Regions from separate parts of the Homo sapiens genome. Here region 1 is linked to region 2. Evidence: fine-mapped expression QTL. A gene starts in region 2. The other region holds a variant in brackets. All regions are shown on one strand. Distances are between the middles of the regions.

Region 1 (10,374 bases), 34 kb after region 2:
AACATATTTCATTGTACTTCAGGACTGTCCATGGATGCAGTGTTACCATCGAGGAGCTCGAGGCCGAGGTCGACTCTGGCACCCTGATGACAAGTCTGGAGATTCAGCAGTAGAAAGAAAGCAGGAAAGTGGTATTAGCCATAGAAAAGAAGAGGAGAGGCCGGGCGTGGTGGCTCATGCCTGTAATCCCAGCATTTTGGGAGGCCGATATGGGTGGATCACCTGAGGTCAGGACTTTGAGACCAGCCTGGCCAACATGGTGAAACCCAGTCTCTACTAAAACTACAAAAATTAGCCGGGCTTGGTGGCAGGCGCCTGTAGTCCCAGGTACTCGAGAGGCTGAGGCAGGAGAATTGATTAAACTCAGGAGGTGGAGGTTGCAGTAAGCCATGATCGTGCCACTGCACTCTAGCCTGGGTGACACTAGGGAGGCTCTATCTCCAAAAAAATTAAAAAAAAATAAAGAGGAGAGGAGTACGCAGCAGAAGAGTAAGTTTTGTCTCAAAGAAGGAATCTGGTCGGAGGTTCAGAATTGGAAGTACAATTTTATTGTTTTTGCAATTTCTATAAATTAAAGTGTCAGAAAATGCTGATGGCGAGGACATGCATTGCAATTTGCAGGGGAAATGTCAAGTGAGGACTTCATCACGTGTGACACGAGAGAAAAGTAAGAGCTGGTTTTAAAATCAAAAGCTGTTGTTCATCCTGAATTGAATTTCTAAATTTTGGTGGAGCAGAGTCGCTTTGAAGCTTTATTCCCATCTATTTCTATTGCATTGCTAATGATAACTGTTGACTTTGGGTAGTGTAGAAGCAACAAGCATGTCCTTGTCTATAAGTACAGGGAAGGATAGAACAAACTTTCATTGATGCAAACATTTAAATAGTCATGTTACTTCTGTATCCAATGTCCTAACATTTTAGGGTTACTTTTGTTTTTTTATTTGCTTACATAAGCTTAGCATGAAGAATATTTTTAAACATCTCGTTTTGTCTCCAGCATTTTTTCTATTAAGAGGTAAAATGTAGTCCTTGTTGGATTCTTGACAATCTAGTTTGTTTTATCTCAGGTCTCATGATCTGGTGCCTACCCTCTCCAGGAAGGAAACTGCACCAATGTCTGTTGTTGTTACATATCAACTTTTAGTTTCAGTTTGTTTTGTTCTGATGTCAATACATAGTAACAGCAGTCAAGTATGAAGCTAAGTGTGGTGAGTAACTTTAGTAAACAGCTGTGAGGTTTTTTTTGTTTTTTTTGTTTTTTTTTTGAGACAGAGTTTCACTCTGTCACCCAGGCTGGAGTGCAGTGGCACAATCTCGGCTCACTGCAACCTCCACCCTCCGGGTTCAAATTATTCTCCTTCCTCAGCCTCCTGAGTAGCTGGGACTACAGGCACCTGCCACCGCGCCTGGTTAATTTTTTGTATTTTTAGTAGAGATGGGGGTCTCACCATCTTGGCCAGGCTGGTCTTGAACTCCTGACCTCGTGATCCACCGGCCTCAGCCTCCCAAAGTGCTGGGATTACAGGCGTGAGCCACCACGCCCAGCCAGCTGTGAGTTTTGAGAAATTAAATTTTTTATACTGTATTAGCCTCTTGGAAGTATCAAAAGCAGATGAATAATGTTAGTTTCTGCCTTCACAGGCATTGCCTTTGTTTTGTCCACCAGAGAAAGATCAGTTCATGGTTCACTCCTGTATTAGGCCGTTCTTGCATTGCTATAAATAAATGCCTGAGACTGGGTAGTTTATAAGAAAAGAGGTTTAACTGGTTCACAGTTCTGCAGGCTGTACAAGCATGGCATCTGACATTGCTCAGCTTCTGGGAGGCCTCAGGGACCTTTTACTCATGGCGGAAAGTGAAGCAGGAGCAGGCATGTCACATCACAGAGTGAGCAAGAGAGTGAGTGTGGGAAGGAGGTGCCACACTTTACAACAACCTGATCTGTAAGAACTCACTATGGAGAGGACAGCACCAAGCCATGAGGGATCCGCCCCATAACCCCAATACCCCACCAGGCCCCACCTACAACACTGGGGATTATATTTCCATGAGATTTGGGTGGGGACAAATTTCAAAACTACATCAACTGTTCTGGTCCCATAAGAACAAAATGTTTAGACAACATCCTTGAGCTTTTGCCTGATTTTCATTCATCCTGCCAGCCCTTCCTAACATGGCATCTGTTTGCCAGATGCCTGGGCTCAAACAATCTGTCCACTGTAGCCTCGAAAAGTGCTGGGATTATACGCATGAGCCACCGTGTCCAGCTTTATATGGATTTTTAAAAGAACAGAAGCCAGGGGCAGTGGCTCATGCCTGTAATCCCAGCACTTTGGGAGGCTGAGGCGGTTGGATCACCTGAGGTCAGGAGTTCGAGACCAGCCTGGCCAACATGGTGAAACTCCATCTCTACCAAAAAATACAAAAAAAAAAAAATTGGCCAGGCTTGGTGGAGCGCACCTGTAGTCCAAACTCCTCGGGAGGCTCAGGCAGGAGAATCACTTGAACTTGAGTGGCAGAGGTTCCAGTGAGCAGAGATCTCAATCCTGCACTCCTGCCTGAGCAACAGAGTTAGACTCCATCTGCCCCCCTCACCACCACACCCAAAAAAAGGCCGGGCTTGGTGGCACATGCCTGTAATCCCAGCACTTTGGGAGGCTGAGGTAGGTGGATCACCTGAGGTCAGGAGTTTGAGACCAGCCTGGCCAACATGGTAAAACCCCATCTCTACCAAAAAATACAAAAAAAAAATTTGGCCGGGCTTGGTGGAGCACACCTGTAGTCCAAACTTCTCAGGAGGCTCAGACAGGAGAATCACTTCAACTCGGGAGGCAGAGGTTGTAGTGAGCCTAGATCTCACCACTGCACTCCTGCCTGAGCGACAGAGGGAGACTCCATCCTCCCCACAACAAAAAGGCAGGGGATTGAGGTGGCACATGCCTGTAGTCCCAGCACTTTGGGAGGCCAAGGCGGGCACTTCACCTGAGGTTAGGGATTCAAGACAAACCTGGCCAACATGGTGAAACCCAGTCTCTACTAAAAATACAAAAATTAGCCAGGCACAGTGGCGGGCTCCTGTAATCCCAGTTAGTCGGGAGGCTGAGGCTAGAGAATCGTTTGAACCCAAGAGGCGGAGATTGCAGTGAGCCAAGGTCGTGCCACTGCACTCCTGCCTGGGCGACAGAGCCAGACTCCATCTCAAAAAAAAAAAAAAAAAAAAGGAAAAATAGAAAAGAAAAGTTTGTGGAAAATAGAAATAAAAGAAAAAAATATAAACTTCTCATCGTAAGATCCACCAAGGTCAAGACACTTTCATAAGCAATGATAACTAGCCATTTATGTATGTATGTATGTCTCTTGCTCACAACAATTACATACTAGTCATTTCATCCATCCCCTAAGAAGTGGAGGTCCTTGGAATTTAACCACATCAATGAAATCTTTTTTACATTATTAACTGAAGAGAAATGGTTGCCCTTTACAGACTTTTTAAAATTAGGAAACAAAAAAGTGACAGAAGAAGCTAAATCCCGACTGTAAGGTGGATGCCTAATGGTTTCCCATTGAAACTCTCAAAATTGCCCTTGTTTGATGAGAGGCACGAGCAGAAGCATTACCGTGGTAGAAAAGGACTCTCTGGTGAAGCTTTCCTGGGCATTTTGCTGCTAAAGCTTTGGCCTTCTCAAAACACTCTTATAATAAGCAGGTGTTGGCCGGGCACGGTGGCTCATGCCTGTAATCCCAGCACTCTGGGAGGCCGAGATGGGAGGATCACGAGGTCAGCAGTTCGAGACAAGCCTGACCAACATGGTGAAACCTCGTTTCTACTAAAAATACAAAAATTAGCCAGGCGTGGTGGTGCGTGCCTGTAATCCCAGCTACTCAGGAGGCTGAGGCAGGAGAACAGCTTGAACCTGGGAGGCAGAGGTTGCAGTGAGCCGAGATTGCACCACTGCAGTCCAGCCTGGGTGACAGAGTGAGATTTGGTCTCAAAAAAAAAAAAAAAAAAGCTGGTGTTACTATTCTTCGGCCCTCCAGAAAGTCAATAAGGAGAGTTGCTCAAGCAGCTCAAAAAACTATTGCCATGACCTTTGCTCTTGGCCAGTCCAGTTTTGCTTTGACTGGATCTCTTCCACCTCTTCAGAGTCATTGCTTTGATATTGCTTTGTCTTCAGAGTCATACTGGGAAAGCCACGTATCACCTCCCGTTACACTTTCCCAATAGATGCTTCATGATCTATTGGTTGGTGCCAACGTAATTGCGGCTTTTGACATTCCATGGCATAAACCACAATTAATATGCAGCAACGTAATAGATCTCACTTGTTTAAAATTTCCGTTGAAATCTCTGTTCTTGTCTGCAGCTGATCTGGTTTTGG[C/T]ACCCATCAAGTGGAAAGTTTGCTCAACTTTTAATTTTTCAGTCAGAATTGTGTAAGCTGAACCAATTGTGATGTCTATGGTGATGGCTGTTGTTTCTGCCATTAATAGTTGGTCTTAGTCTCTCACGAAGGCTGGAGGCCAGTGGCACAATCTTGGCTCACTGCAACCTCTGCCTCCCGGGTTCAATGATTCTCCTGCCTCAGCCTCCCAAGTAGTTGGAATTACAGACACCTGCCACCGCACCCAGTTAATTTTTGTATTTTTATTAGAGACAGGGTTTCACCACGTGGGCCAGGTTGGTCAGATGACCCGCCCGCCTTGGCCTCCCAGAGTGCTGGAATTACAGGGGTGAGCCACCACACCCAGCCGATGCTTTTCAGTTAAAGCACGAAGAGGATTTTTGTTGTTGTTGTTTTTTAAGACGGAGTCTCATTCTGTTGCCCAGGTTGGAGTGCAGTGGCATGATCTCAGCTCACCACAACCTCCGCCTCCTGGGTTCAAGCGATTCTCCTGCCTCGGCCTCCTGAGTAGCTGGGACCACAGGCTCATGCCACCATACCCAACTAATTTTTGTATTTTTAGTAGAGACGGGGTTTCACTATGTTGGCCAGGCTGGTCTTGAACCCCTGACCTTGTGATCCACCCGCCTCGGCCTCCCAAAGTGCTGGGATTACAGGTGTGAGCCACTGCGCCTGGCCTAATTTTTTCCCTTGCATATTGATGTGGATGACCTGCTGCTGCAGGCTTCATCTTCAACATCATTTTGTCCTTTCTTACAAGTTATCCATTTGTAAACTGCTGATCTCTTTAGGGGCATTGTCCCCATAAACTTTTGGTAAAGCATCAGTGATTTTACCGTTCTTCCACCCAAGCTTCATCTTAAATTTTATGTTTGTTCTTCCTTCAATTTTAGCAGAATCCATTTTTCGCTGATAGGAGCTCTTTTCACACTGATGCTTTCTCCTTTTTAATGCCTCAAACTAGATCCTGTCGAGATATTTTTTAACGAGTTAGTACCAGTTTATTTTGATGCCAAAAGATTTTGCAATCCATGCATAGTTTCTTGATAATACACATTTTCCATGGACTTTTTGAAGACTTCTCATATGACTGTTGATATGATTGAGCTCTGTTCCCGCACCCAAATCTCATCTTAAACTGTAATCCTCATGTGTCAAGGGAGGAGCTTGGTAGGAGGTGATTGGATTATTGGGGCAGTCTCACACATGCTGATCTTGTGATAGTGAGTAAGCCTCACAAGATCTGATGGTTTTAAACAAGGCAGTTTTTCCTATGCTCGCACTTCACCTCTAGTCTGCTGCCATGTAGCATGTGTCCACTTCCCCTTCTGCCATGATTGTAAGTTTCCTGAGGCTCCCCCAGCCATGTGGAACTGTGAGTCAATTAAACCTCTTCGGCTGGGCTTGGTGGCTCACCCCTGTAATCCCAGCTTTGGGATACCAAGGCCGGTGGATCACCTGAGGTCAGGAGTTCCAGACCAGCCAGGCAAACATGGCGAAACCCATCTCTACTAAAAATACAAAAATTAGCTGGGTGTGCTTATGCCCGCCTGTAATTCTAGCTACTCAGGAGGCTGAGGCAGGAGAAGCGCCTAAACCTGAAGGGCAGAAGTGTGGTCAGCCGAGATCGCACCATTGCACTCCAGCCTGGGCGACAAGAGCGAGACTACGTCACATATTTTATTTATTTTATAAATAAATAAAAATAAAATAAAATAATTAAACCTCTTCTCTTTATATATTACCCAGCCTTGGGTATTTTTTCTACTAGTGTGAAAACCAATTAATATAGCTGTGAAAGAAATGGAGATACATAGGTTAATGGTGTTAATGAAGCTTTATTTTAAATATGAGAAAGTAAGTAAGTTTAGAAGCCAAAAGGTAAGCTCTACAAGGATGAATACTCAAGAGAAAGAGACAACGAATACTGTAGGCTTCCTGCAAAGGCAGGTGAAAATGGAAGCCAAGGTAGAGGTTAGAGGAGTTGGCCTTAGGAGAAGCAACACTCCTGAACCCCCAGGCATGAGTTGACATCCTTGCCTCTTTGTCTAGCCTGTTTTCATGTCAGCACCTCCCTCTTCTGTTCTACTTGCCTGGCCTGTCCAGCTCTGGATAAATCACCCATCCCCACCCCACCCTCTTCAATTTCTTCCATTTGCTCATTCATTTAGCAAACATGTACCAATCACTGACTGTGTGCCAGGCCCTGGGGTCAGGGATTCAAATAAGTCCTTGTGCACGTGGAACTCATGTTTCAGTGTTGGCAAGAGGCAAATAGCAATAATCAGATCATGATGCACAATGTCAGAAGGGTCGCGGTAGCACAGGGTGTTGTGGGAGCCTCTTGCCCCTAAGCTGCAAGTGTCGCTGGAGAAAATCCCTCAAGCAGATCAATTGGTGAAACCACAGGAGAGCCTTCACTCCTGCTAAGCAATTTTTACCATCAGTCTTGAATTGATATCCTTTCCCCAGTGCCACCTTTCTTCTACTTTGCTCCCTTGCTCTCCTTTCTTGTGTTGCAGGCAAGGGGGGTGAGGACCACTTCCTCATAAAGCATAATTTCATGTCCTTAATAACTATAGGCCAGGCATGGTGGCTCATGCCTGTAATCCCAGCACTTTGGGAGGCCGAGGCAGGTGGATCACTTGAGGTCAGCAGTTGGAGATGAACCTGGCCTACGTGGTGAAACCCCGTCTCTACTAAAAATACAAAAATTAGCCGGGCTTGGTGGTGTGCACCTGTAGTCCCAGCTACTCAGCAGACTAAGGCAGGAGAATCGCTTGAACCCGGGAGGCAGAGGTTACAGTGAGCCGAGATTGCACTACTGCACTCCAACCTGGACAACCAGAGCGAAACTTCGTCTATGCAGGCAATCCTAGCATTTGGGAGGCCAAGGTGGCAGAATCATTTAACTTCAGGAGTTCAAAGCCAGCCCGGATAACATAGGGAGACCCCATCTCTATTAAAAATTTTAAAACTTAGCCCAGTGTGGTAGAGCGTGCCTGCAATTCCAGCTACTAGGAAGCTGAGGTGGGAGGATGGCTGGAGTCTGGAATGTCAAGGCTGTTGTGAGCTGCAATCTTGCCATTTGCACTTCAGCCTGAGTGACAAAATGAGACCATGTCTCTAAGAAAAATAAGTTGTACCAGGCTTATAAAATAATAATTAGGAAATGGTTGCTTTTCTTTGGAAATGGAGAGAGGAAGTGGGCAAGTTGTCATTTACCATGCCTTCACATTTTTGGTCTTAAATGACTGGACTTTAGTATATATTAATATATAAGTTATGACTTGAAAATCCCACGTAAAAGCTTAGCAGCATTGTTGTAACAGTAACATATTTCATTGTACTTCAGAATCATCCAGGGATGCAGCGTTACCATCCAGGAGCTCGAAGCCAAGGTCGACTCTCGCACCCTGATGACATAACCAAGTCTGGAGATTCAGCAGTAGAAAGAAAGCAGGAAAGTTGTATTAGCCATACAAAAGAAGAGGAGAGGCTGGGTGTGATGGTTCACGCCTGTAATCCCAGCACCTTGGGAGGCCGAGGCGGGTGGATTACCTGAGGTCAGGAGTTTGAGACCAGCCTGGTCAACATGGTGAAACCCCATCTCTACTGAAAATACAAGAACTAGCCAGGCGTGGTGCCAGGTGCCTGTAGTCCCAGGTACTCGGGAGGCTGAGGCAGGAGAATCGCTTGAACTCAGGAGGCGGAGGTTGCAGTAAGCCGTGATCTTGCCACTGCACTCCAGCCTGGGCAACAGAGTAAGACTCCATCTCAAAAAAAAAAAAAAAAAAAAAAAAGAAAGAAAGAAAAGAGTAGAGGAGTGTGCAGCAGAGGAGTAAGTTTTGCCTCAAAGCAGGAATCTGATCAGAGGTTCAGAATTGGAAGTACAATTTCATTGCTTTTGCAATTTCTATAAATTAAAGTGTCAGAAAAAGATGATGGCAAGGACATGCATTGCAATTTGCAGGGGGAAATGTCAAGTGAGGACTTCATCACATATGACATGAGAGAAAAGTAAGAGCTGGTTCTAAAATCAAAAGCTTTTGTTCATCCCAAATTGAGTTTCTAAATTTTGGTGGAGCAGAGTCGCTTTGAAGTCTTGTTCTGATCTATTTCTACTGAATTGTTGATGATAACTGTTGACTTTGGGTAGTATAGAAGCAACAAGCATGTCCTTGTAGTACAAGTACAGGGAAGAATAGAACAAACTTTCATTGATGCAAACATTTAAATAGTCATGTTACTTCCGTATCCAATATCCTCAAGTTTTAGGATTAGTTTTAGTTTTTTATTTGCTTATCTAAGCTTGGCATGAAGAATATTTTTAAACATCTTGTTTTGTCTCCAGCATTTTTTTTATTAAGAGGTAAAATGTAGTCCTTGTTGGATTCTTGACAATCTAGTTTGTTTGATCTTAGGTCTCATGATCTGAGTGCCTACCCTCTCCAGGAAGGAAACTGCACCGATGTCTATTCCTGTTAAATAGCAACTTTTAGTCTCAGCTTGTTTTGTTTTGATGTCAATAAATAGTAACAGCATTCAAGTATGAAGTTAAGTGTAGTGAGTAACTTTAGCAAACAGCTGTGAATTTTGAGAAATTAATTTTTTGATACTGAATTAACCTCTTTGGAGTTTGGAAAGCAGATGAATGATATTAGTTTCTGCCTTCGCTAGCATGCCTTTGTTTTGTCCACCAGAGAACGATCAGTTCATGGTTCACTCCTGTATTAGACCATTCTTGCACTGCTAAAAAGAAACACCTGAGACTGGGTAATTGATAAGAAAAGAAGTTTGGCCAGGCACGGTGGCTCATGCCTGTAATCCCAGCACTTTGTGAGGCTGAGGTGGGATGACCACTTGATGTCAGGAGTTTGAGACCAGCCTGGCCAACATGGTGAAACCCTGTCTCTACTAAAAATACAAAAAAATTAACCGGGCATGGTGGCACGCTCCTGTAATCCAAGCTACTCGGGAGGCCGAGGCAGGAGAATCGCTTGAACCCAGGAGGCAGAAGTTGCAGTGAGCCAAGATAGCACCACTGCACTCCAGCCTGGGTGACAGAGCGAGACTCCATCTCAAAAAAAAAAAAAAAGAAAAGAAAAAAATAAAAGAGGTTTAATTGGCTTATAGTTCTGCAGGCTGTACAAGTCGGGAATCTCACATTGCTCAGCTTCTGGGAGGCCTCAGGGAGCTTTTACTCATAGCGGAAGGTAAAGCAGGAGCAGCCATCTCACATCACAGAGTGAGCAAGAGAGTGAGTGCGGGGAGGAGGTGCCACACTTTACAACAACCAGCTCTGTAAGAACTCACTATGGAGAGGACAGCACCAAGCCATGAGGGATCCGCCCCATAACCCCAACACCCCACCAGGACCCACCTACAACACTGGGGATTATATTTCCATGAGATTTGGGTGGGGACAAATATCCAAACTACATCCACTATTCTTGTCCCATAAGAACAAAATGTTAGACAACATCCTTGAGCTTTTGCCTGATTTTCATTCATTCTGCCAGCCCTTCCTGACGTGGCATCAGTTCGCCTTTACTTTCTTAATCACCACTTTATGTTTTCCCAGCTTTTAGAAACAAATAGCCAAAGAGGCAGGTACAAGAGCCACCAATAATGACTGAAAGTAAATGATTGTCAACTGGGCAAGAGTACTAAAGGAAGGGAAAATTTCTAGAAGGAGATTGGCTGACAATGTCCCGTGCCACAGAGAGGCTAAGGAAGACAAGAAATGGAAGTGTTCACTGGATTTGGCAGTCGTGATTTCATTAGTGAACTAATGAAACTGATGACCTAAAAGAGACAGAAACCATGTTACAGTGAGGGGTGAATGGCAGGTGGGAAATGGATGTATGTTTGGAATTCATCTCTTTTTAGGTGGTCATTGAAGTCATGGCCATTGATTCTGTTACTTAAGAGGGAGAGTGAAGTAAGAACAGAAGCAGACCTAGGGCCC
Region 2 (10,374 bases):
ATAAATTTAATTTTCACAGCAAGACAATTTTTACTTCTATAGAAGGGTGCGACTCGTGAATGGAGTAATGGCAAGAGCACACCTGAACAAGGGAGGGGAAGGGGTTCTTATTCCTGACACAGGTAGCCCCTACTGCTGTGTCGCTCCCCTATTGGCTAGGGTTGGACTGCACAGTCTAAGCTAATTCTGATTGGCTACTTTAAAGAGACCAGGGGTATGAGCCAGAGTGGCGGGGTGAATAGTTTGGTGGGAAGGACGGTTAGGAACAGGTAACTAAAGGTGACTTAGGTCAGAGCAGGGACCAGGGGTGACTCAGGTCAAAGCGGATGACCGGGGTGAGTCAGGACGGAGCAGGTAACCAGGGGAACAGATGTGAACTACTGATGAAAACTGGTGGAAAATGTTGTTTACTGAAACTACGAGGAAGTTAAACTTTACAATGGAGGACAAAGAACTGAACATACTGACATACTGATTCTTTGAAGAGAGATCTAGATCTCACTGTATCCAACAGCCAATATGGTGAAACCCCATTTCTACTAAAAATACAAAAATTAGCCGGGCGTGGTGGCACACGCCTGTACTCCCAGCTACTCGGGAGGCTGAGGCAGAAGAATCGCTTGAACCCGGGAGGTGGAGGTTGCAGTGAGCCAAGATGTAAGCCAAGATGGCGCCACTGCACCTCAGCCTGGGCGACAGAGCGAGATTCCGTCTCTAAATAAATAAATAAAGAAATCTCAGTCATAAATGTTGAGAGAAAGGAGCCTAACATAAAAGAATACATGCTGTATGATTCAATTTACATAAAGTTCAAAACAGACAAACTCAATAGTATTAGAAGTCATTCATAAAAGGATGTAGCTGCTAAAAAAGAAAAAGCAAAAAGGATAGTGGTATTCTTGGTGGCGAAAATGACTGGGAACAAGTAGGAAGAGAGCATCTGGAGTGCTGGCAATGTTTTGTTTCTTGATCTACATGCTGGTTACATAAGTGTGTTCACTTTGTGAAAATTCAGCAAGCTGGATGCTTACTTTTAGTGCACTTGTCTGTACATCTGTTATACTGCAATTAAAAGTTTCATCAAAAAGGAAGTCTACAGTATGTGTTAGGTAGAATAATATCTCCCCCAAAGTTGTACACATCCTAATCCCCAGAACCCATGACTGTGTTAGGTTATATAGCAAAAGGAAATTAATGTTGCTAATCAGCTGTCCTTAAAATAGGGAGATTATCCTGGATTTTACAGGCGGACACAATGTAAACACAGGAGTCCTTCAAAGTGAAAGGGGAAAGTGCAGAGGCCAGGAGTTGGAGACCAGCCTGGGCAACACAGTGAGACCCCTTCTCTACAAAAATGAAAATAAATTAGCTGGGCATGGTGGCATGCACCTGTAGTCCCAGCTATTTGGGAGGCTAAGGCAGGAGGATCACTTCAGCTCAGGAGTTTAAGCCTTCAGTGAACTGTGACCCTGAAAAAAAAACTTGGAATGGCAAGGCAGAGAATAAAAGAGATATAGACAATAGACAGAAGTAGGGGCAGGGTCAGAGAGAGATGCTTGAAGACGAAGGGTTCATAAGCCAAGGAATATGGGCCGCCTCAAGAATCTGAAAAAGACAAGGAAATCTATTATCTCCTAGAGCCTCCAGGAAGGAACTCAGTCCTGCCAACACCTTGATTTTAGCCCAGTGAGACCCATATTGGACTGTTTGTTTATTTATTATTACTATATTTTTTTGCCCCCTCACAGGACAAAGCTAAAACCTTGTTGGACTTTTAACCTACAGAACTGTAAGATAATACACTTGCATTATTTAAACCCACTAAATTTGTGGTAATGTTACAGCAGGAATAGGAGGCTAATACAGTTGGTGTGGGGGAAGATCAAGTGTTCAGTTTTGGATGCATTCGGTGGCTGAACACGTTAGACGTCTTAAGTGGAGATGTTCAATAGGCAGTTGGATACATGACTCTGGAAATCATCAGGGAGGTATGGGCTGGAGATGTAAATTCTTTTTTTGTTTTGTTTTGGTTTTGAGACGGAGTCTCGCTCTGTCGCCCAGACTGGAGTGCACTGGCACAATCTCGGCTCACTGCAACCTCGACCTCCTGGGTTCAAGCGAATCACCTGCCTCAGCCTCCTGAGTAGCTGGGATTATAGCTGCCTGCCACCACGCCCGGCTAATTTTTTTGTATTTTTAGTAGAGACGGGATGTCACATGTTGGCCAGGCTGGTCTCGAACTCCCGACCTCAGGTGATCCACCCGCCTCGGCCTCCCAAAGTGCTGAGATTACAGCTGTGAGCCACCACGCCCGGCCTGGACATGTAAATTCTAGAGTAGAGTTGTCAGCAAAGACAGAAAAGCCAAAAGAATGAATGAGATTAATAAAGGAGTGAGTGTACATAGAAAAGAGGTCTAAGGACTGAGCCCTGGGACACTTTATTCTGGCAACTGACAAACAGCTGGTGGTTTAAAGCTAGTGAGGACACCAAAACAGAGGCATACACTACCAACATGCAAGTGCAGAGCTAAGCAGTAGGTCAGAGGCAGATGCATAAACAAGGCTCATAAGAACGGCCAGGTACTGAAAGCAAGAGTAACAGATGTCAAATACAGGGAAACCGTTTTAGCCACAGGAATAGGAATCCAAGAATAGGCTGGACAATTGGAGTGAGAAAATTTAAGTGCAGAGTCAGGGGAATATATTCTAGAGGTCGGCAAAAATGGGAGTTGGCCCTTAGGCAGCTTTCTGCCTTGGGCTCCTATTGCATCTTTAATTTGGTTTCTGTCCTCTATGGGTGTCTGTGTCTCTCTCTCTTTTTGAGATGGAGTCTCACTCTGTCACCCAGGTTGGAGTGCGGTGGCACAACCTCGGCTCACTGCAACCTCCGCCTCCCAGGTTCAAGTGACTCTCCTGCCTCAGCCTCCCAAATAGCTGGGACTACAGGCGCCTGCCACCATGCCCAGATAATTTTTGTATTTTAGTAGAGACAGGGTTTCACCAAGTTGGCCAGGCTGGTGTCGAACTCCTGATCTCAGGTGATCCGCCGGCCTCGGCCTCTCAAAGTGCTGGGATTACAGGAATGTGCCACCACGCCCTGCTAATTTTTTTTGTTTTTAGTAGAGACAGGGTTTCGCCAAGTTAGCCAGGCTGGTCTCGAACTCCTGACCTCAGGTGATCCACCCACCTTGGCCTCCTAAAGTGCTGGGATTACAGGCGTGAGCCACCACGCCTGGCCGACTGATCTGCTTTCTATCACTGTGGTTTTATTTTTCTAAAATTTCATATAAATGGAATTGTACAACATGTACTCTGTGTCTAGATTCTGTCACTCAACATAATCACTGTTAGATTCACATTTGGATTGTTTCCAGTTTGGAGTTATTATAAATAATGTAAAATTGGCCCTTTTTAAGTGAAGATGGTGATCGCAACTAAATCAAGTTGGGTTTTATTTTTATTCCCCTCCCTGTGGGACATCAGTACCTGGGGAGAAGGATCCTTTTGCTAAAATAAGGTGATGAAAACAAATCTTGTATATTTTAGTCATATTACTCCTTTAAATATCAGTATCTTGTGTTTATTTATTATTATCCTTCTTTTTTATATACAGGGTCTCGCTCTGTCGCCCAAGCTGGAGTGCAGCGGCGCGATCATGGCTCACTGCAGCCTCGAATTCCTGGGCTCAAGATCCTCTCTTCTCAACCTTCCCGAGCAGCTGGGACTACAGGCGTGCGCCACTGAACTCGGCTAATATTGTAGTATTTACTAAGTATCTGTAAATCCTAATCAATATAAGGAAAATAAAGTTTTTTAAATGTTAGGCTTTTTCTTTTAGTTGTAGGAAAATAAATGCTAAAGCCTCTGAATTCAATGATAAAAAATACAAGTCGCTCCCCTAGTGAGGCAAAATTTGGACGGCATTGAGTTTATCTGATGGAAACTAAGCGTGAAGAACCTATCTTTCGACCTGGAAAACTCTGAAGATGAAAGGATTCGATTTACTCACAAACAGGGACCCTGAGATAGCTCTGGCCCCTGAACGCCCAACAAAAGCGGGTAGCTGCTTTGTATGCCGGGATTTGTAGTCCCCGACAGAGTCACTTCAAGATGGCGGAATTGCTAATGACGCGCGAAGGGGCGGGCCCCGAGGGAGTCTGGGCCGCGAGGGGATTGGGTGGCGCAGGAACTTGGCGGGCGGGAAGTAAAAACCAGGTGTTAAAACCTTTGCACTGGGAAAGGCCCAAGTCTCGCGAGAGCTTGGCAGGACCCAATGGAACGTGGGGCCCGACTTATCACAAGGGGCATTTGTTGGGGGCGGAGCTTTGACGGGAGCTTCCCGGGAGCCGTTTGTGCCCGGGGTAACCCCGTTCCGGCCAAGCCGCTTCAGCGGGGGACGTAGCCATGAAGGAAGAGAAGGAGCACAGGCCTAAGGAGAAGCGAGTAACCCTGTTAACCCCCGCCGGGGCCACAGGCAGCGGTGGTGGGACCTCGGGGGACAGCTCCAAGGGGGAAGATAAGCAGGATCGCAACAAGGAGAAGAAAGAAGCGCTGAGCAAGGTGCCCGGTCGGCCGCTGGCCCGGGAGAGGGCGGGACGAGTCCGCAGCGCGGGGAGGATGGCTGGGAATGGGGCTGCCCCCTTTCTTTCTCAGGTTCTCCTTCTATCTCTTCGCCTGAATGGAAGTCGCATCATCCTGGTTCATCCATTCACCCGAAATGGGGAGAGCCCCTCCCGGCCAAATCCTGGGTGGGGGTGAGGAAAAGAGGGGACTCCCCAAACGGGAAGGGTTTAGGTCAGAGCTGTGAGATGATAATGGGAGGGAAGAGCGACGGTATAAAGAATGAGGAACTAAAGGTGTAATTGGGGAGAAATATTAAATAGTGAAGGAGACATGAGGGATGGGAATATTATTCATGGAGGCGAGTTGGGGGAGAGTGCAGGGTGATTAATGGTACAGGAGGGTAGATCGAGAGCATCCTATTTTGAGAGCAATGGGTAGATTTTTTGTATTCGTTAGAGTTTTGAATTCTTAAGTTCAATGGGCAAGGATTTTGTTTTAAGATGTGTTGGACGTGGGAGAAACTTGTTGCTAAATCAAGATTTCGTGGCACCCACAAAGACCAGCGTTGGCTTACTAAGTTATTGCCACTAGATCTGTTAAAAAATGGGTGATCGAAAATGATGCACAAACCTGGTAAACTGCAGGGCTGCTGTAAAGAGCAAAACCTGCGATTTTTCCTTGCTCCAGGTGGTTCTCATTTCCAAGGGTTTTTTTAAACCGCGTTACTATTATGTTTGACTAATTCTGAGCATTGGGCTGCAGAAGAATATTTTCTCCTGGGTTTTTACAAGTGATCTCATATTTTAAAGCCCAGCCTTCTTCAGGAACTGTGATTCTTTCAGGTATGACAGAAAACTGATTTGTACTAATTTTATTTTCCTTATGCATTTCTTAAGGTGGTAATTCGAAGATTACCTCCCACTTTGACCAAGGAGCAGCTTCAGGAACATCTTCAACCTATGCCTGAGCATGATTATTTTGAGTTTTTTTCTAATGATACGAGGTAAAAAAAAAAAAAAAAGGAAAGGGGTAAATGAAAAAGGTTTCTTTCATTCTTTTTATCCTACTGTTTTTCATTTGATTTTTGAGCTTGTCTTTAATATATGCATACTTGTAATTGGGCCAGACACCTGCGAGTACATTTACATAATTGCTTTCCTCTCTGCAGTTTGTATCCTCATATGTATGCCAGAGCATACATCAACTTTAAAAACCAAGAGGACATTATTTTGTTCAGGGATCGCTTTGATGGTTATGTATTCCTTGACAATAAAGGTGAGTCCTGGTAACTGAAGTAAAAAGGGAATTTCTTTGTCATTTGTATGTTTAAGACAACTCGTGCATTGCGTTGCTTCCTAGAGTTTTACACATTTAATAAGCTTATTGCAGTCTTATAAATAGACGTGACTTTTCACAGTCCTTGGTTATTTTTATTAACCTACTATTTTTTTAGTTTGATCAACTGAGTGAAATTGCAACTGTTTTCTCCTCGTGTGACACATTTTTTGCCCTGGCTTAAACCTGCTGTTTTGACTGTAGAATTTCAGCCGCAGTACTGATAAGTGACTCTTAAACTTGTTTGATAAGTTTTAAATATTTACTTCTTATTTTGCTTCGAGGACAAACATTTATTTAATTCAAATCCATTAAGCCAACAGTTCCCAATTGGGATACTGTTTAACATTCTCACAAAGTTGTATATAATTAAAACATGAAACTTGATACATCTCGGCCTGGTGTGGTGGCTCACGCCTGTTATCCCAGCACTTTGGGATGCCGAGGCAGGTGGATCACGAGGTCAGGAGATCGAGACCAGCCTGGCCAACGTGGTGAAACCCCATCTCTACTAAAAATGCTAAAAAAATTAGCCAGGCGTGGCGGTCCACGCCTGTAATCCCAGCTACTTGGGAGGCTGAGGCAGAAGAATCGCTTGAACCTGGGAGGCAGAGGTTGCAGTGAGCTGAGATCACGCCACTGCACTCCAGCCTGGCGACAGAGCGAGACTCTGTCTCAAAATCGAAAAAAAGAAACTTGATACATCTCTTACTTTATATCCAGAAAGGTCCAGTCTATAGGGAAGACACATTTCTACTTTAACACTCTATTATCTGCTACCTACATTTAGCCAGAGAATATCTAAGCTGCCATTTGCCACTTTTCTTTTTGGTTTGCAATTATAGGTAAATAGTGTGTCTTCTTGTTTTGTTTTGTTTTTTTCAATATTACTTCAAAGTTGGTAAAAATTAAATTTTTGTCAGGGACTATGCCAGTAAAAATTGAAGGATTGCCACTGTTTGTCCAACTTTTATTAATCTCCCCAAGCCAGCTATTTTTCCACTCCAACTATTTTATTCCAGTAGATATTTAACTAGATTCTAGTTACTTAGCCTGGAAATCTGAGTTGTGTTTAATTTTTTCCTTTTTTAAAAATCTCTTACATGTAAGTTATGAATCTTGTCAATTTATTGTTTATCTTTTGAGATAGGGTCTCCACCCAGGCTGGAGTGCTGTGGCGCAATCAGAGCTCACTGCAGCCTGGAATTCCTGGACTCAAGCAATCCTCCCACCTCAGCCTCCTGAGTAGCTGGGACTACAGATGTATGTCACCATGCCTGGCTAATTTTCTTTAAATTTTTTATAGAGATGGGGTCTCACTACGTTGCCCAGGCTGGTCTTGAACTCCTGGGCTCAAGTGATTTCCCCCCCCCCACCTCAGCCTCCCAAAGTGCTGGGATTACAGGTGCGAGCCACCATACCCAGCTCAACACCACTTATTAAAGAGACTATCCTTTCCTCATTGTGTTTTTTGTTTGTTTGTTTGTTTTGTTTTGTTTTTAAATCTTAGAGACAAGGTCTGCTTATGTTGCCCAGGCTGGATTTTATTGTTTTTTTTTAATATCTTGTTCACCTAGCCTTAAACAGTCACACTTTATGTCCTCATCACTTAATGCCTAGACAACCACTGTCTCTAAACTTACAGGATTTTCCATTTTTTTCATTCTTGTATAATTCAGTCTATTATATTGCCATGAAATTAATCTTTTTGAAAATAATGATTTAAATTAACAGTTGGGGGAAAAAGTCCAAACTCCTTAGCCTGGTAGTCAGGGTCCTCCATATTCTGGCCTCACTTCTGTTTCTTCAGCCTGTCTTCCACAATTTCCCTCTGTTTCAGTCTGGTTTATCTATTCCTTCTCAAATATATCACAGTTTTGTTTTTTGGTTTTTATTTTTGTTTTTTTTCTTTTTCTTCTCTCTCTCTCTCTTTTTTTTTTTGAGACAGAGTCTTAACTCTGTCGCCCAGGCTGGAGTACAGTGGCACAATCTTGGCTCATTACAACCTCCGCCTCCTGGGTTCAAGCAATTCTCGTTCCTCAGCCTGCCGACTTAGCTGGGATTACAGGTGTGTGCCGCCACGCCCAGCTAATTTTTGTAATTTTAGGAGATGGGGTTTCACCATGTTGGCCAGGCTGGTCTCAAACTCCTGGCCTCAAGCAATCCACCCGCCTCAGCCTCCCAAAGTGCTGGGATTACAGGCGTGAGCCACCATGCCTGGCCTAATATATCACAGTTTTGAAGCTAATCTGATTCTCTACTCACTGGGATTCCCAACATAATTTTTCCTCCATGACTGCTTTGCAGTGCCTTCTGGTCAATTCTGTTTATTTTTATTTTTCTGCTTATGTCTACATGCCAATGATTTAAGGATAGGATACCTTGTTTTTGACATTCTGTGACAGGGTGCTTGTGAATTTTTTTCCCATTAGTCACTTGGGGTTTTTGTATTGAAATATAACTCACCTATAATAAAATTCATCCTCTTAAAGCGTACAATTCAGTGGTTTCTGGTATATTCACAAGGTAGTACAACCATCAGTACTAATTCCAGAATGTTTTCATCCCTCCAAAAAGAAACCCATATCTATTAGTAGTTACCTCCCATTCTCTCCCTCCAGCCCCTGGCAACCACTAATCTACTTTATGTATCTATGATTTCCCTCCATTTCATATAAATGTAATCATACAATATGTGGTCTTTTCTGACTGGCTTCTTTTACCTAGCACAATGTTTTCAAGGTCCATCCATGTTGTAACATATAACATATATCATTACCTCATTCCTTTTGCATTTTTAAAAATTGTAAAAATACACGTAACATAAAATTTACCATCTTAACCATTTTAAGTGTACAGTTCAGTAGCATTAAGGTATATTCACACTGTTGTGCAACAATCTTGGGAACTTTTTCATCTTGAAAAACTGAAACTCTTTACCCATTAAACAACTCCTTATTTCCCTTCCTCCAGCCCCTGGCAACCACCATTATACCTTGTGTCTGTATGAGTTTCACTACTGTAGGTACCACATATAGGTGGAAACATACAGTGTCTGTCTGGCTTATTTCATTTAGCATAATATCTTCAAGGTGTATCCATGTCGTAGCATGTGTCAGAATTTTCATCTTTTTTTTTTTTTTTTTTTTTTTTGAGATGGAGTCTCACTTTGTTGCCCAGGCTGGAATGCAGTGGCGCGATCTCAGCTCACTGCAACCTCCGCTTCCTGGGTTCAAGCAATTCTCCAGCCTCAGCCTCCCAAGTAGCTGGGATTACAGGTACCCACCACCACAGCTGGCTAATTTTTTTGTACTTTTGGTAAAGATGGGGTTTCACTGTGTTGGCCAGGCTAGTTTCAAACTCCTGACCTGAAGTGACATGCCTGCCTCAGCCTCCCAAAATGCTAGGAATTACAGGCATGAGCCACTGCCCCCAGCCTCATTTTTAAGACTAATATTCCAGTATATGTATATACCACATTTTGTGTATCCATTCATCTGTCAAGGGGTATTCGAGTTGCTTCCACTCTTGGCTATTGTGAACAATATTGTTATGAACACAGATGTGCACATATTCGAGTCCTTGTTCTCACTGCTTTTGGATATATACCGAGAAATGGAATTTCTGGAGTCATTTGGTAATTCTATTTTTATTTTATTATTTATTTATTTTGAGACAGAGTCTCTGTCACACAGGCTGGAGTGCAGTGGCATGATCTTGGCTCACTGCAACCTCCACCTCCCAGGTGCAAGCAATTCTCCTGCCTCAGCCTCCCAAGTATCTGGGATTACAGACACCTGCCACCACACCCTGCTAATTTTTTATGTTTGTGGTAGAGACGGAGTTTCACCATGTTGGCCAGGCTGGTCTCAAACTCCTGACCTCAAGTGATGCGCCCACCTCGGCCTCTCAAAGTGCTGAGGTTACAGGTGTGAGCCACTGTGCCCCGCCGGTAGTTCTTTTTTGTTTTGTTTTGTTTTTTTGAGATGGAATTTCGCCCTCATTGCCCAGGCTGGAGTAAGTACAATGGCGCGATCTTCCCTCATTGCAACCTCCACCTCCTGGGTTCAAGCAATTCTCCTGCCTCAGCCTCCTGAGTAGCTGGGATTACAGGTGCCCACCACCACACCCAGCTAATTTTTGTATTTTTAGTAGAGATGGGGTTTTACCATGTTAGTCAGGCTGGCCCAATAATTCTATTTTTAATGTTTTATGGAACTGCCATACTGTTTTCCATGCAGCTGCATCATTTTACATTCCCACCAATACATGAGTGTTCCAGTTTCTCCACATCTTTGCCAACACTTGTTATTTTCTGCTTTTTGATAGTAGTCCTCCTAATAGGCGTGAGATGATACCTCATTGTGGTTTTGATTTGCATTTCCCTAATGACTAGTAATGTGGAACATATTTCCATATGCTTGTTAGCCATTTGTATATTATCTTTGAAGAAATGTCTATTCAAGTCTTTTGAC

Direction of the effects. Positions count from the first base shown, and alleles are read on the strand shown. Sizes are in standard deviations (SD) of each study's normalised expression.
As copies of T replace C in region 1, the expression in fibroblasts of the gene that starts at base 4,371 in region 2 goes down (small effect, 0.25 SD a copy in GTEx).

What was found. PIP is the estimated chance that this variant, and not a neighbour inherited with it, causes the effect.
Region 1: its variant is fine-mapped to the expression of UPF3B in fibroblasts (GTEx, PIP above 0.99).

The regions. Positions count from the first base shown.
Region 1 is chrX:119,812,692-119,823,065 of GRCh38, reverse strand. It overlaps a transcript of UPF3B not described here and the pseudogene LOC100422368. Among named protein-coding and RNA genes, the nearest start is that of RPL39, 26 kb to the right of the region's middle. The variant C/T (reference allele first, on the strand shown) is at 4,383.
Region 2 is chrX:119,846,960-119,857,333 of GRCh38, reverse strand. UPF3B (UPF3B regulator of nonsense mediated mRNA decay) reads left to right here and starts at 4,371. Exons shown (of 11, transcript NM_080632.3): 1 at 4,371-4,561; 2 at 5,461-5,567; 3 at 5,733-5,839. The coding sequence starts at 4,406. RefSeq lists an enhancer at 4,337-4,396.